Homo sapiens: one gene and its partners. Changing the gene in region 1 together with any one later gene gives a genetic interaction. Each region holds a gene or a part of one and is shown on either strand. Other genes may lie near its edges.

What was found.
Region 2: changes in PRIM2 (region 1) and EXOSC9 together harm fitness more than expected from each alone (negative genetic interaction), as found in Homo sapiens cells (one large-scale study listed by BioGRID).
Region 3: changes in PRIM2 (region 1) and UBA2 together harm fitness more than expected from each alone (negative genetic interaction), as found in Homo sapiens cells (one large-scale study listed by BioGRID).
Region 4: changes in PRIM2 (region 1) and TRA2B together harm fitness more than expected from each alone (negative genetic interaction), as found in Homo sapiens cells (one large-scale study listed by BioGRID).

What each region holds. Positions count from the first base shown.
Region 1 is NC_000006.12:57,534,130-57,537,629, forward strand, and holds part of PRIM2 (DNA primase large subunit), read left to right. Parts: intron 1-3,310; coding exon 3,311-3,496; intron 3,497-3,500. UniProt on the Homo sapiens protein: Regulatory subunit of the DNA primase complex and component of the DNA polymerase alpha complex (also known as the alpha DNA polymerase-primase complex) which play an essential role in the initiation of DNA synthesis.
Region 2 is NC_000004.12:121,811,323-121,814,421, reverse strand, and holds part of EXOSC9 (exosome complex component RRP45), read right to left. Parts: intron 2,840-3,099; coding exon 2,751-2,839; intron 1,189-2,750; coding exon 1,042-1,188; intron 557-1,041; coding exon 375-556; intron 1-374. UniProt on the Homo sapiens protein: Non-catalytic component of the RNA exosome complex which has 3'->5' exoribonuclease activity and participates in a multitude of cellular RNA processing and degradation events.
Region 3 is NC_000019.10:34,441,881-34,445,380, forward strand, and holds part of UBA2 (SUMO-activating enzyme subunit 2), read left to right. Parts: intron 1-1,963; coding exon 1,964-2,031; intron 2,032-3,119; coding exon 3,120-3,241; intron 3,242-3,500. UniProt on the Homo sapiens protein: The heterodimer acts as an E1 ligase for SUMO1, SUMO2, SUMO3, and probably SUMO4. It mediates ATP-dependent activation of SUMO proteins followed by formation of a thioester bond between a SUMO protein and a conserved active site cysteine residue on UBA2/SAE2.
Region 4 is NC_000003.12:185,935,215-185,939,480, forward strand, and holds the start of TRA2B (transformer-2 protein homolog beta), read right to left. Parts: upstream 2,801-4,266; 5' UTR 2,647-2,800; coding exon 2,611-2,646; intron 1-2,610. UniProt on the Homo sapiens protein: Sequence-specific RNA-binding protein which participates in the control of pre-mRNA splicing. Can either activate or suppress exon inclusion. Acts additively with RBMX to promote exon 7 inclusion of the survival motor neuron SMN2.

The DNA.
Region 1 (3,500 bases):
TTCCGCTGTGGGCCTCTTCAAGTAGAGACAACTTTCCCCCCGAGTTCATATATAGGTATGCGGTGAGTGTCTTTCTTGGTCCGCATTTCTCTGCCTTCCATTGTTACAGCTCCAGCTCCTTTAAAGCCCTTGTGATCTTATTATATCATCTGATACCTCCTTTGTTGCTATTCGACCCCCTCCCCCCACACCTGTATTCGTTGATGATTTGAACACCTAGCTAATGGTCTTGTGTACTGGCGCTATTGTTGTTATTGTTCTTGGCCTCTGCAAGATCCAAGTTGATAATTTATCCCCTATCCTGGACTTATGATTCTTTTGTTTGCTTGTTTTCCATGATCATTTTTCTATCTGTATATAGCCAGACACTATCTTTTTAATTTTTATTATTTGGACTACTGCCCACACCTCTTAAGTATCCCTCCTGCTTCCATTCTTACTCTCATATAGTCTTTTCACTACATAACAGCCAGAGTTCTCTTTGTGTATTGAATCACATCAGTCTTCTGGTCAGAACCCTCTAGTGGGTTTTTATCATATGTAGACTTAAATCCAAACTCATGTTGTGGCCTCTGAAGCCATATGTGCTCATCATTTCTATTTTATCTTCTGCTCCATTCCGGCTCATTCACTTGCTCTGGTCACATGGATCTTATTCTCTCTTTTAGCACACCACATTTATTCCTTCTCAGGATCTTCATTTCACTAGAATCCAACTTACTTTGTCTTACTTGAAATGCCATCTCCTCAAAAAGGCTTCCCTGGCCACCCAAATTGAAGTACCTCTCCCCTAATCACACTTGATTTCATTTCTCTATTTCATTTCCAGTGTTTTGGCATCAGATGTTATCTTTTTAATGTCTGTATTCATTGTCCGTCTCCTCCTATTAAAAATAAGCTCTTCGAGGACAGGGTTTTTGACTTCTTTGTTCACTACTGGTTCCCCAGGGCTGTACACATAGTAAGTGTTAAATAAATATTTGTTGATTGAATGAATAAGAAGTAATCAAGGAATGTGCCAAAAGAAATAGAAATTGAGGTGGGTCTTGAATGATGACTTGGCTTTGGCTACATGGCATGTGCATGAGAAGGGTGCACCAGGCAGGGCTAGCAGAGTGAGAAAAATGAGAAGCTACAGAGCATGACTGCGTGGTCATGGGATATTGAATAATCCAGTGGACTGGAGCCGAGGACTCATTTTGGTGTAGTAATAATATACTGGGCTTTCCCAGGCTCCCTGTCACAGTGCTTCTGTGGTGCTCAAGTTTTGCCCTTGTTGGAGCCCTCATTTTATCATTTATTTCATGTGTTTAACTTACATAGTAGTGAATATAATAATTGTGGTGTCTTTTTCCTTAACTGAATTAAAGGGGACAATTAGGTCCTAGCTTATTTTCCAGAACACTTAATAAATAATTGTTCTGTTATGTATAATTGAAAAGTAGTTATTGGCCAGGCGCAGTGGGTCATGCCATCTGCAATCCTAGCACTTTGAGAGGCCAAGGTGGGAGGATCACCTGAGGTCAGGAGTTCGAGACCAGCGTGGCCAACATGGTGAAACTCTGTCTCTACTACAAATACCAAAATCAGCTGGGCATGTTGGCAGGCACCTGTAATCCCTGCTACTCAGGAGGCTGAAGCAGGAGAATCGCATGAACCTGGGAGGCAGAGGTTATAGTGAGCCGAGATGGCACTGCTGCACTCCAGCCTGGGCAACAGAGTGAGATTCCATCTCAAAAAAATAAAAAAAGAAGAAAAAAAAAGAAAGGTAGTTACCAGATATTGAGGAAACCTTGCATGTTCATACTAAGGATGTTGAATATTGATTGTATGGATTAGAACAATGTTTAGAAAAAAATCAGATATTAATATGAAGGAACAAAAATGGTCTCATGAAAAGGAGCTGAAAGGCTTTCTAGTTAGTTCTAGATATAGAACCAAGGGAGGATATAGGTCTGAATGAACTAGACTGGGGATGGAAAAAATCAGAAGTTGTTACTGTAAAAGAATGAAGAGAAACTAGATGGTCACTAGAGGGAGCAGCAAAGTCAAGCAAAGTGAGACCTGCTCTTTCTTATAGATGAAGTGAACTTGCTAAGGCATATGTGAGGGAGTAAGAATTTAAGTCTTGGGAGGATATTTAAGGAAGTCATAGAGAATGCAATTGAAACCGTAAGTGAAAAATTAAAGTAGGCAATGATATTTCATTTTTGGCACTAAGGCACTAACTACACTTTGTTCCTTTTAACTTGGTTTCTTTAACATATTTATTTGAATTTTCCTTATGAGAAGTTTCTCTTATTTTTGTATTCTGCTTTGTATTTGAGTTATCTTAAAAGTTCATCTGCTATTCAGCAATTGTACTTTTATCTCAGGGAAATGAAATCTTATGTTCACATAAAAACCTCTTCAAGAATGCTTATAATACCTTCATTTGAAATAGCCCAAACTGGAAACAACCCAAGTGTTCTTCAATGAGTGAATAAATAAATTATGATACATTCATACCATGGAAAACTATTAGTAATAAAGAAATGAGCTTATATACAACTTAGATGAATCTTGAGGGAATTCTGCTGAGTAAAAAATGACAATCTCAAAACAATACATATTATATGATTCTATTATACTCTTGAAATGACAAAATTATAGAGATGGAGAACCAGATCAGTGGTTGCCAAAGATTAGGGAGCTGAGGGAGGGGAGCAGGGTGCAAAAGATAGATGGGGGTGGTTATAAAATCATGAGAGATCCTTGTGGTGACAGAACTGTTCTGCATGTTGACTGTGGTGGTGGATGTATGAACCTACATGTGACAAAACTGTATAAAATTTAATACGGAAGTAAGTGCATGAGTACAACTGAGGAAACCTGAATAAGACTAGTGGATTGTATCAATGTCAGTATCCTGTTTGTGATAATCTACTGTAGTTGTATATGATTTTATCTTTGGGGGAATTTGGATATATGCTATCTCTTTGTATTATTTCTTGTAACTGTATGGGAGTCTGTAGTTAACTTCAAAGAAAAAGTTTAATTAAATTAAAAAAACAGGTAAAATAAATTTTAATAGTATGTTATTTAATCCAAAGTATCTAAAATATTATATTAACTTGTAACCAGTAAAAAATGTTAATAAGAAACATCTTATACAGATAAGAGTCATCTGTAACCACAGTAATAAAGTGGCACTTTCTTATGGTGTTTTTTTTTTATTCCAATTAAATTGAATTAGGAACCATAACAAATATTACAGGGGACCTGATAAGTCTTCCACTTAACTTAAAACTCTACTATTTTTTTCTTGTAGCTTTCTACCAAATCCTTCCCACCTTGCATGCGTCAGTTACATAAAGCCTTGCGGGAAAATCACCATCTTCGTCATGGAGGCCGAATGCAGTATGGCCTATTTCTGAAGGGCATTGGTTTAACTTTGGAACAGGCATTGCAGTTCTGGAAGCAAGAATTTATCAAAGGAAAGATGGATCCAGACAAGGTAA
Region 2 (3,099 bases), on another chromosome or scaffold:
TTTTTTAATTAAAAATATCACTATCATTTATGCCAGTGTTCCACTACTCTACAAAGATATGCATATTCTTTTAGAAAGTAGCATTAGTATTGCAGCTAGCCACAATAATTTAGTTGAAATTTAAATCACAATATTTAGCCCCTCTAAAAATGCAATACTTACATCCCTATATATAACTACATATCTATATTCTCTCTATATAGTATCCTGTATGTTATTTATCCACTATACATCTCTATATAGCTAATATGCTATATATTACTATATACAGTGATAATATAAATATACACACATTTTATGCATTATATATATAACTATACGGTAATACTATATGTATGTAATATATAGTAAGTGTGCCATAAAGTGTCACCTACCTTGGCTTCCAATATCAGAGACTTCTACTCCAGTGTCCATTTTTATACCATCAAGAATGATAGCTTGATCACCACCGCCTTCATCATCTTCCTTCTCAGAGTCTTCAAGATCACCCCAGGAGTTTTCTACTCCCTCTCCAATTTGGGCAGTTCCAGGAGTCCATAGCACAGGTGTAGAAACACTTAACAAGTTAAGAAAACTGAGTAACAAAAATATTGCTATTTGATGAACTGTTGAAGATGAGAATGAAAGTTTTCTTCTTGTAAGATTGATTCAAGTGTGCCCCAAGTTCCTAGGGGAAAAAAAACTTAATATAGCTACACTATGGATGGCTGAACAATGAAGAAGAAAAAAAACTCAGGCAAGATTTTATGGATGCAATTAATAAGAAATGTGAAGAGACAGATTCTCTCAACATTTTAGTTATAGTACTAAATTAAATTGGTCCTTAAAATCTGTTTTTTCCAGGATAACTGAATAGAAGCTGAATGTTATACCATCAACAGAATATGACTCACATCTCTATCTTGTATTTTAAGTGTTTTCTCTAACAAAGTACAGTGTTTACAAAAACTAATTTCAGTATACACATCCTTCATATAGCCTAATATTATAATGCCAAGTGTTATGAATCTTGTTACTGCAAAAACCACCAAATAAAGATACACTTCTGAAGGAGGTTCTGCTTCAGCAATGATTTCTTCTGCTTTTTCTTCTACATCCGAGGTATCAATAGGGGCCTTTTCCATTTTAAATGCTGTGATCCTTTGATTTGCTATAGACTCTGCAAAACCAAACTTTCCACCTTCTTTCCTGTATGTGGGGGTTTTTTTGGTGGGAAGGAAGGGGGAGGAAGGTAACAGATTGGATAGAAGACAGGAAGGGAAAAAAACTATTATTTTATCCTTTGGTGGATGAAAAATATTGGAAGAGAGTTAGTTTATCTAACTTAACCTCACCAATTTATTATGCCTAACAAGAGTAAATAGTTAGCATAATCATTTATTAAACCACGTGCCAGACCATGTGCTAGGTGCTTAAAATATACTATTCTCTAACCCTCAAATCAGCCCTACCAGGTAGTGTTAATATCCCATATTATAGAAGAGGACACTGAAATGCTGGGTTATGTATCTTGCTTAAGATAGCACAGTAAGAGGTAGAGATGGAAATCAACCTGTTTCCTTCCATTAATTTGAGTTACTAGATTATTTTTATCCTAAGAAAATGTTAACTGCTAAAGAAAAATCTTATGTCTCCAGGCACGGTGGCTCACACCTGTAATCCTAATATTTTGGGAGGCCCAGGCGGGTGGATCACCTGAGGTCAGGAGTTTGAGACCGGCCTGGCCAAAACGGCGAAACCCCATCCCTACTAAAAATATAAAAATTAGCCGGGCATGGTGGTATGCATCTGTAATCTCAGCTATTTGGGAGGCTGAGGCAGGAGAATCACTTGAAGCCATGAGGCGGAGGCTGCAGTGAGCTGAGATTGCACAAATGCACTATAGCCTAGGTGACAGAGTGAGAAGTGAGACTTCATCTCAAAAAACAAACAAAAATCTTATATGATTTTTCAATATAGGTTACATTTAAATTGCAGAAAATATAACAAGTCCAATTTTCTAAAAACACATTAAATAGTATACTCAATTCAGATTAACAAATAAGGAAAGATCAAGTGTGAAATTTATATGGTTGCCCTCGTTCAAGGAAGATCCTTAAGAAAAAAAATATATTAAAAGACCATTTAGGGCCATTTCCTGTTCCCTGTGTTGTATCTTGGAGTCTGGATTAATGAAGACCTCTTGCTCTTAGGAGGGTCTTTCCTCTTTATTGTTTTAGAATTCTGGACTTGACCCAGACTTAAATTCCCATCTGTGATGCATTTTGCAATAAGTGGGTTTGATGCCAGCACTTTGAAAGATATCCCTCATAAAACAAAAGGACAAGAATCACCAGCTCCCACACAAAGTAAAAAACGTGAACCTAATTTTAGCAGTGTTAATAAGGAGCAACTATCCACAAGTCACTGCATCAATAATGCTTGTGTTATAACATCCTCTCCTCCCTAAGGCACAGGAGCAAGTGACACATACTTGTCTGGGAACCAGTTTCATTAATACTTTTATTGTATCCGTCCAAAGATGAGTAGCAATATCTGTTACCAGTTTCACTACCTTTCGGAGTTTTGGGTAACATAACTATACCATGGTATTTACACTTTTTAATGAGTCAATTTTAATTGAAATTGCCATTCTAACTTTGTATGTGAAATCAAGTTCATGCATAATAAAGCTTGCTTATACTAAAAAAAATAATAAAAATTTAAAAAATGAAAATAAAAGACCACTTAGTTCTGGAAAAGTTACTTACCTTACTTTTTGGTCATTCTCCAAAGCTTTCAATATTAGCTCTGTAATTTCTGCTACTTTCACACCAGCGATTTTACTGCATCTCAGAACCTATTTATAAAAGTGAATTCTGTTGTTTAAAGACAATAAACCAAATAGTTTTCTCTAATGAAACTAAAACCATGAAATTTTTCTACCTTTATAATTTAAGCCTGACTTTTCCAAACATGAATACAATGTAAACACAGATTAAGGCAAGATGTGAAAGTTGTTTTAAGATATGTGAAGGACTGTCACATCAAGGGAACAGACATAAAAACTTTCTTATACAACAGTATAAAAGATACCACAGAAGAGGCCACAGACACATA
Region 3 (3,500 bases), on another chromosome or scaffold:
ACTGCACTCCAACCTGGGGGACAGAGCGAGACTGTGTCTCAGAAAAAGACAAAAAAAAAAAAAAGATAATGTGGCCAGGTGCAGTGACACACACCTGTAATCCCGGCTCTTTAGGAGGCCAAGGCAGGAGGATTGCTTGAGCCCAGCAGTTTGAGAGCAGTGTGGGCAACATAGTGAAACCCCATCACTACAAAAAATTTAAAAATTAGCAAGGCATGGTGGCACATGCCTGTGGTCCCAGCTACTTGGGAGGCTGAGGTGAGAGGATCACTTGAGCCTAGGAGGTCGAGGCTGCAGTGAGCTGTGATCACACCACTGCACACTAGCCTTGGGGACAGTAAGACCCTGTCACACACACAAAAAAGATAATCTGGCAAAATTAATATGAGCAGCATTTTTCACTCGAAGGGAAACCTAAATAAGCAATAAGCAAGTTATGTTTTAATCATAAGACTTACTTGGAAAATTAAGTATAAGACCATAGTAAGCTACAGATGCTTCTCAGATACTTCCCGATAAACTCATCATAAATAAAAAATACCATTAAGTAAAAAATGATGCTTTTTTTGTTGTTGTTTTTTTGAGATGGAGTTTCGCTCTTGTTGCCCAGGCTGGAGTGCAGTGCAACTGCAATCTCTGCCTCCTGGGTTCAAGCGATTCTCCTGCTCAGCCTCTCGAGTGGCTGGGATTACAGGCGTCTGCCACCACGCCCAGCTAATATTTGTATTTTAGTAGATACAGGGTTTCACCTTGTTGGCCAGGCTGGTCTCAAACTCCTGACTTCGGTTGATCCACCCGCCTCGGCCTCCCAAAGTGTTGGGATTACACATGTGAGCCACCACGCCCAGCCAAAAATGCATTTTAATATAACCTCAATAAACCTGTTGTAAAGGTGAAAAATCATTGGTGGACCATTTTAAATTAGCGGCTGTCTACTATTTTGCACTCACTAGTTGGCAAAGCGTTAATTTTAGGAAGTGTTAACATGCCATTGTTGGGAGTGACTATCAGAGCTTTGAAATTATAGTTGGGTGGGGGGTTGTACAAAGGATTTCTGTAAGATAACTTTCATTAATCATATACTTGAGGAAATACTGGAAACTTTTATATCCATGAGTTATTAAACAGTTTTTAGGATAACTTTATTAATAAAAGAGAATCTCAGCTTAATACTTTCAAATTGTTTGTTAACACTCTGTTCAGCAGTAAAGAGCCATTCTACCATGAAAAAAAGTTAATCTTGTTCATTGCTGAATTTCTATCCCCTAGATGGGGACTCTGCACCTGAGGTATATAATAATGTTTGTTGAACAGGTAGCTGCAGGTGTAAACACAAACATTATTCTGGTGTTAGAATGTTATCCAGGTTGTAAGTGAAAACCACTCACCTGTTTCTTGAGCAGAGGTTTTAACATTGAAATGTGCAGAGCCTCGCTGATAGGAATGGATGTAGGTCTGCTAAAATTTAACCTTGCTTACATTGCTGTTGAAATTGGGATGCAAGCTGTCCAAGCACATTGTGTTAAACTTTTAAGTTTATAGTCATTTATCCGTTATTCACTTTTTTTTTTTTTTTTTTGAGACGGAGTCTTGCTCTGTTGCCCAGGCCGGAGTGCAGTTGTGCAGTCTCGGCTCACTGCAACCTCCATCTCCTGGGTTCAAGCGATTCTCCTGCCTCAGCTTCCCGAGTAGCTGGGATTACAGGCGTGCGCTACCACGCCTGGCTAATTTTTATATTTTTGGTAGAGACGAGGTTTCACCATGTTGGTCAGGCTGGTCTCGAACTCCTGACTTTGTGATCTGCCTGCCTCAGCCTCCCAAAATGTTGGGATTAAAGGTGTGAGCCACTGCGCCCAGCCAGTTGTTCAGTCTTTATCTCTGCTAAATATTTGGAATATTCTAAATTACATGTTTGTTTAGAATGCTTTGTTATACAGAAGTATTTACTATTCTTAAATTATAGCCAGTTGTTTGGGGAAGAAGATGCTGATCAAGAAGTATCTCCTGACAGAGCTGACCCTGAAGCTGCCTGTGAGTAAATTATTTGGCATATGTTTTATCAGATACTATTATCTTTATTTTGTTGATTTAATTTTGGTAGCTTAAGGGAAAAAAATTGCTATATGTGCTAGGTAATGTGTGTTTAACATGTGTTTTTTTTTTGTTTTTTTTTTTTTTTTTTTTTTTTGTCTCAGAGGTGGAGTTTCTCTCTTATTGCCCAGGCTGGAGTACAATGGTATAATCTCGGCTCACTGCAACCTCCGCCTTCTGGGTTCAAATGATTCTCCTGCCTCAGGCTCCTGAGTAGCTGGGATTACAGGCACCTGCCACCGCGCCCAGCTAATTTTTGTATATTTAGTAGAGACAGGGTTTCACCATGTTAGCCAGGCTGGTCTCGAACTCTTGACCTGAGGTGATCCACCCGCCTTGGCCTCCCAAAGTGCTGGGACAGGCGTAAGCAACCGTGCCTATCCAAAACAATGTTTTACAAAAAAAATATGATTCCGTTTTACTGATGAGGAAATCAAGGTTAAGAGAAATTTCACAAGTCTAGTAAATAGAGCTGCGAGTTGTTCCTAGATCTCATGACTGGTCTGTGCTTTGAACTGTTATATGTGTAGCTTTCAGAAACTAAGTTACAACAGGCCAGGCAAGGTGGCTCACGCCCGTAGTCCCAGCATTTTGGGAGGCTGAAGCAGCTGGATTGCATGAGGTCAGGAGTTTGAGACCAGCCTGGCCAACATGGCAAAACCCTGTCTCTACAAAAAATATAAAAATTAGCCAGGCATGGTGGTGCATACCTGTAGTCCCAACTACTTGTGAGGTTGAGACGGGAAGATGGCTTGAGCCCAAGAGGTAGAAGCTACAGTGAGCCGAGATCTTAACACTGCACTCCAGCCTGGGCAACAGAGTGAGACTTTGTCTCCAAAAACAAGAAAGAAAGAAACTGGGATACAAAAAGATGCTGATGAATGTGTTATTTTCTTATTCCTTGAACTCAGAATGTGTTGCATTTGGGGATTTCCATGAGTGACTTTCTTTTTATTCCCAAAGGTGAGTGAAAAGAGTTCAGTTCTACATTTATTACGGTTGAAAATAAAATAATGATCGTTTTATAGGGGAACCAACGGAAGCCGAAGCCAGAGCTAGAGCATCTAATGAAGATGGTGACATTAAACGTATTTCTACTAAGGAATGGGCTAAATCAACTGGATATGATCCAGTTAAACTTTTTACCAAGGTTAGATTTACTTTTTTTATAATCATGGATAGATGTATTGTTGTGCATAGATGTATTGTTCTAGTTCTGCTTGTTTTAAAATAGTCCATAAAATTGAATTAAGCTTCTATGTATATGCCTTGTGATGTCCTAATAAAATGATTGATGCAGTCAGGATATGCAAGTTTTAAAATGTTACCATCTACACTAAATCTATCAGTATAACATCTAAATAGGAGGTAAAATGAGAGGTGGCTTGTATACCTTCTTGGTTGTCTTT
Region 4 (4,266 bases), on another chromosome or scaffold:
TGGGGGAAGAGTCTTGAATCCGGAGATGAAAACGAGATCTTACTTTTGAAAGTGGTTTGGCCAGATCAGGTTAAGCCTGCTAATTAGACCCCTATAGACAGATTTTAGTGTTAATCTATTACCTTTGAGAGGGGGGAAAAAATAAATCCCACAGACCAACGAGGGATGAGGGACACACCAGTTCTTTAAATGTCATTATATTCACCCAAATGTATTCTATTGAGTGATCAAACTGAGAATAATTTATCCCACACACCCAACCTTAAAGGGGAGGGACACAACAACAAACTCCTACAGTCACTGGAAAAGGTGGGGCACAGAGGGGTGGGGTTGTCTGGATTAGAGACAGATAAATAAGGGAGAATTCCACTGATTTGAAGAGATTAGTGATTTACATTAAGACCCAGTTCAGAAGCCTGGAGTTGAATAACACTCATTTTTCTGGCTCCAGAGAAGCATCATTTACACCACAGGCATGTCTAAGATCAAGCTGTTCCATTGAGCTTTATGGTTTTCCCAAGCTTGCTTTGGAAGCCTAGACACGTGTTTGATTCAGGTGTATTCCAACCCTTAAAGGTTCCAATTGGAACACAAACACGCAAACACCAAACACAACAATATGGAAGTATTTCACAACGTAAAAGTTTAGAGATCTCGGCCAGAAAGCGAAGACTCTTATGTAAGAAAAAAAACTCAATTTTTAACACATTAAGTTAACCTCCCTCTACAATTCAAAGATTGCGAAAAACACAGTGTACTTTTACTAGTAAAAAGATAACCCATCAGAAAATTTCAAATTTCTCTTGAGCCGAGTCTCAAACTGGAACCTAGTTTCAATTGTTTCCCTTCTCACGTAAAATATACTAATGAACTCTGGGCAATTTTCCATTCTCAAGCATTCTTCACGTGTATTCAATCGAGAGCTCTAGTCAGAAGCCAGTCATTTAGTATTTTTGAAGAGTAGAAAGGTACCCAATAATTGAATTTTTCTGTTTAATAACAAAAGACTTTAAAATCGCTTACTTTGCAGTCCAAACACCAATGACTGTTATAACAGATTCAACTGCCAATGATCAGAAGTCACGACTTTTTAACAACTTTTGAGCTCAATCCCAACTTTCTTACCCAAGAAAGCAAGAACTTAAAAAAAAATCTAAAACACTCGTGACATTGGAGTCAATCGGCTTCGGGAAAAACATCAAAAACTAAAAACTCTATGCTCATCCGAGTATGTAAACGCAAGGCTTGATTAGTTCAAACCAAATTAAGCAGTTTGGGCTCCAAAATTACGCAGGAAACTCACGCTTCATCACTGAAAATTTCTTCCTAAAATACTCTGAGGAATCATATAAAATCTTAATCAAAAGTTTGCTAAGACATTTAATAGTCTTATTTACCTGATAAATCATATTCAGATCTTAAGGTAGCTTTACCAACAAGGGGAAACTTAGGTAACAAATTGTTTTTTTTTTTTAAAAAAGCACAAATTATTCCCACAGCCTCAAAAATCAATTTCTATGGTGCTTTTCTATCACCCTTCTAACAGATTCCTCTTAATTCTAGCAAGCCTCGTATGTTCGCATCATTCAATGCTTTCCGAATCCAATACCCAGAGCCCCACAGACCAGCTACGTATGCTGTTTAAACCCTAGAACTGTCTTGTTCCCGCAATTCAATCAACCCTCACTGAACACCTTTAAGAGGTGGAAACTTAAGGGAAAGAAAACTGTAGCCAACACACGCTGTGGTTCTAAGTATTAGAACGCCTCAAAACAAAGGAAATAACGGCGCCGTAAATGGTTGCCCGCCAATTTCTCCTTCACAATCCCGTGGAAATGCGATGTCCACAAAATCATCTTAACGACTTTGTGGTCTGTCCTAATAGAATACTGATACAGATTTTTGCCTGGGAAGCCCTTTCGGCATCAGAGAAAAGCGCTTCATTTAGGCCAAACACAAAGCCCTCACGCAATCCCCTCCACCTAACGGGCCCAGAACTTAGTCGGCCTTGGATTAGTTTCCATCTTAAGAGGCCCCAAAGACATCCCAGACTCCGTCCTTTCCGTGGAGGCAAAGACGGTCCTTCGTTAACCTAAACACCGGCCCAAAGACCCAAAAGAACGTCGTCTGTCCCCTTGCACCCCACCACGCGGCCTTACGAAGCGCGGCCCGCTGCGGGTCGGGTCCGCGTTGCCGCGCGGCTTCTCCGCCATTTTGTGCCTCTGGCAGCTCGCCCAGCCCGCCAGCCCAAGATGGCTGCGGCGGACCTTCGCAGGAGAGCAACGCCGAAATAAGATATCGCTCCCCTCCCCCAACACCGCGGGGACGCAGCGGCCATTTTCATCTTCCCCCTCTTATAACGGGAAAAACGGCCGTCTCGGGCAGAAGCCACATAAACCCGCCGGGGGCCTCCCTCCTTCACGACCAAAGGCACTAAGGCACTATCCACAAAGGCTTTTTTTGGTTAAATGCTGTCTCCCTTGCCTGCCCTCCCGGCTTCAGACTTCGGAGCCTAAAACGCCCCTGCCTCCTGGCCCGAGGCCGACGGGCCTAGAAAAAGATGCAAGGAGCTAGGACCACACAGCCACCCCCTACCGCAGCTCTACGTACCCGCTCGCCGTAGTTCTGCTCGCCGCTGTCGCTCATGACTCCTGGCTGCTGTCGCCGGTCGATGTGCTTCAATCGAAGCTGCCAACCTCTTGCACCTTCCTTAAGGAGGCTCCGCCGCAGCCCCGCACGACGCGCCGGTCGCCCAGCCGCTCAGAGCCGAAATGCTCCGCACCGCCTCCGCACGGGCTCTAACTCTACCGGATGTGACGCGGCGCTCCTTAGCCAGGCTCCTCCCCTCCCAGAAACGCGCGCTTTCTTGGCCTCGCCCCTCCTCGCTCTGCCTTTCCTCTCCAGCTGCAGCGCGTCCCGCACAGGAAGTGACGTGACCCCGCCCCTCGCAGGGCCCCACCCCCATTCACGAGCCTCTATGAGGCGGGAAAGCTAGCGTGTCGTTTGGCTGCTGTAGTGGGCGCCACGGAGCCACAGTGATGTCACCAGCCACTTCTGAATCCCTTCTAGAACTTTCCAGGGAACCTGCCGAGTGTGCAGGGAGGAAGGAGATGCTGTTTCCCCCAATCTCAATTCCTTTCTCCGCCTTATTAGTTTCTTGTTTTGTGTCTTTCCTTTGTTAGAGAAGTGAATGTTCGTACATTGGGTTCTTACTTAATTTTGTCTTACTTGTAGATATTTCCTTCCTGAATACGTCTTCATTTAAAAAAGGTCAGATCGGGCTGGGCGCGCTGGCTCACGCTGTAATCCTAGCACTTTGGGAGGCCGAGACGGGTGGATCACGAGGTCAGGAGATCGAAACCATTCTGGCTAACCCAGTGAAACTCCGTCTCTACTAAAAATACAAAAAAATTAGCCAGGCGCGGTGGCGGGCGCCTGTAGTCCCAGCTACTTGGGAGGCTGAGGCAGGAGAATGGCGTGAACCCAGGAGGCGGAGCTTGCAGTGAGCCGAGATCGCGCCACTGCACTCCAGCCTGGGCAATAGAGCGAGATTCCGTCTCAAAAAAAAAAAAAAAAAAAAAAAAAGGTCAGATCGGCTGGGTGCGGTGGCTCACGCCTGTAATCCCAGCACTTTGAGAGGCCGAGGCAGGCGGATCACATGGTCAGGAGTTCGAGACCAGCCTGGCCAACATGGTGAAACCCAGTCTTTACTAAAAATACAAAAAAATTAGCCGGGAGTGGTGATGCATGCCTGTAATCCCAGCCACTCGGGAGGCTGAGGCAGGAGAATCGCTTGAACCCGGGAGGCGGAGGTTGCAGTGAGCCGAGATCGGACCGCTGCACTCCAGCCTGGGCGACAGAGCGAGACTCTGTCTAAAAAATAAATAAATAAAAATAAAAAAGGTCGGACCTTAATACACAGGAATCAGACACAATCTCTATTCTAAAGTTACAAAGTAATGTGCTAGAACCGTTAAACACAATTAGAAAAAATGATTGTAAGTGCCAGAGGCATGTATAACTACAGGGGTGTCACAAGGAGGGAAGATTAATTCTGCCATTTCGTAAGAGAATATAGTTGGATTATAGTGAGAAGAGCCCAAGACCAAGTCGGATACTTTCTTTCTTCTTTTTTTTGAGACGGAGTCTTGCTTTGTCGCTCAGACTGGAGTGCAACGGCGCGATCTCGGCTCACTGCAACGTCTGCCTCCCGGGTTCAAGTGATTCTCCGCCTCAGCCTCCGTAGCAGCTGGAATTACAGGCGCC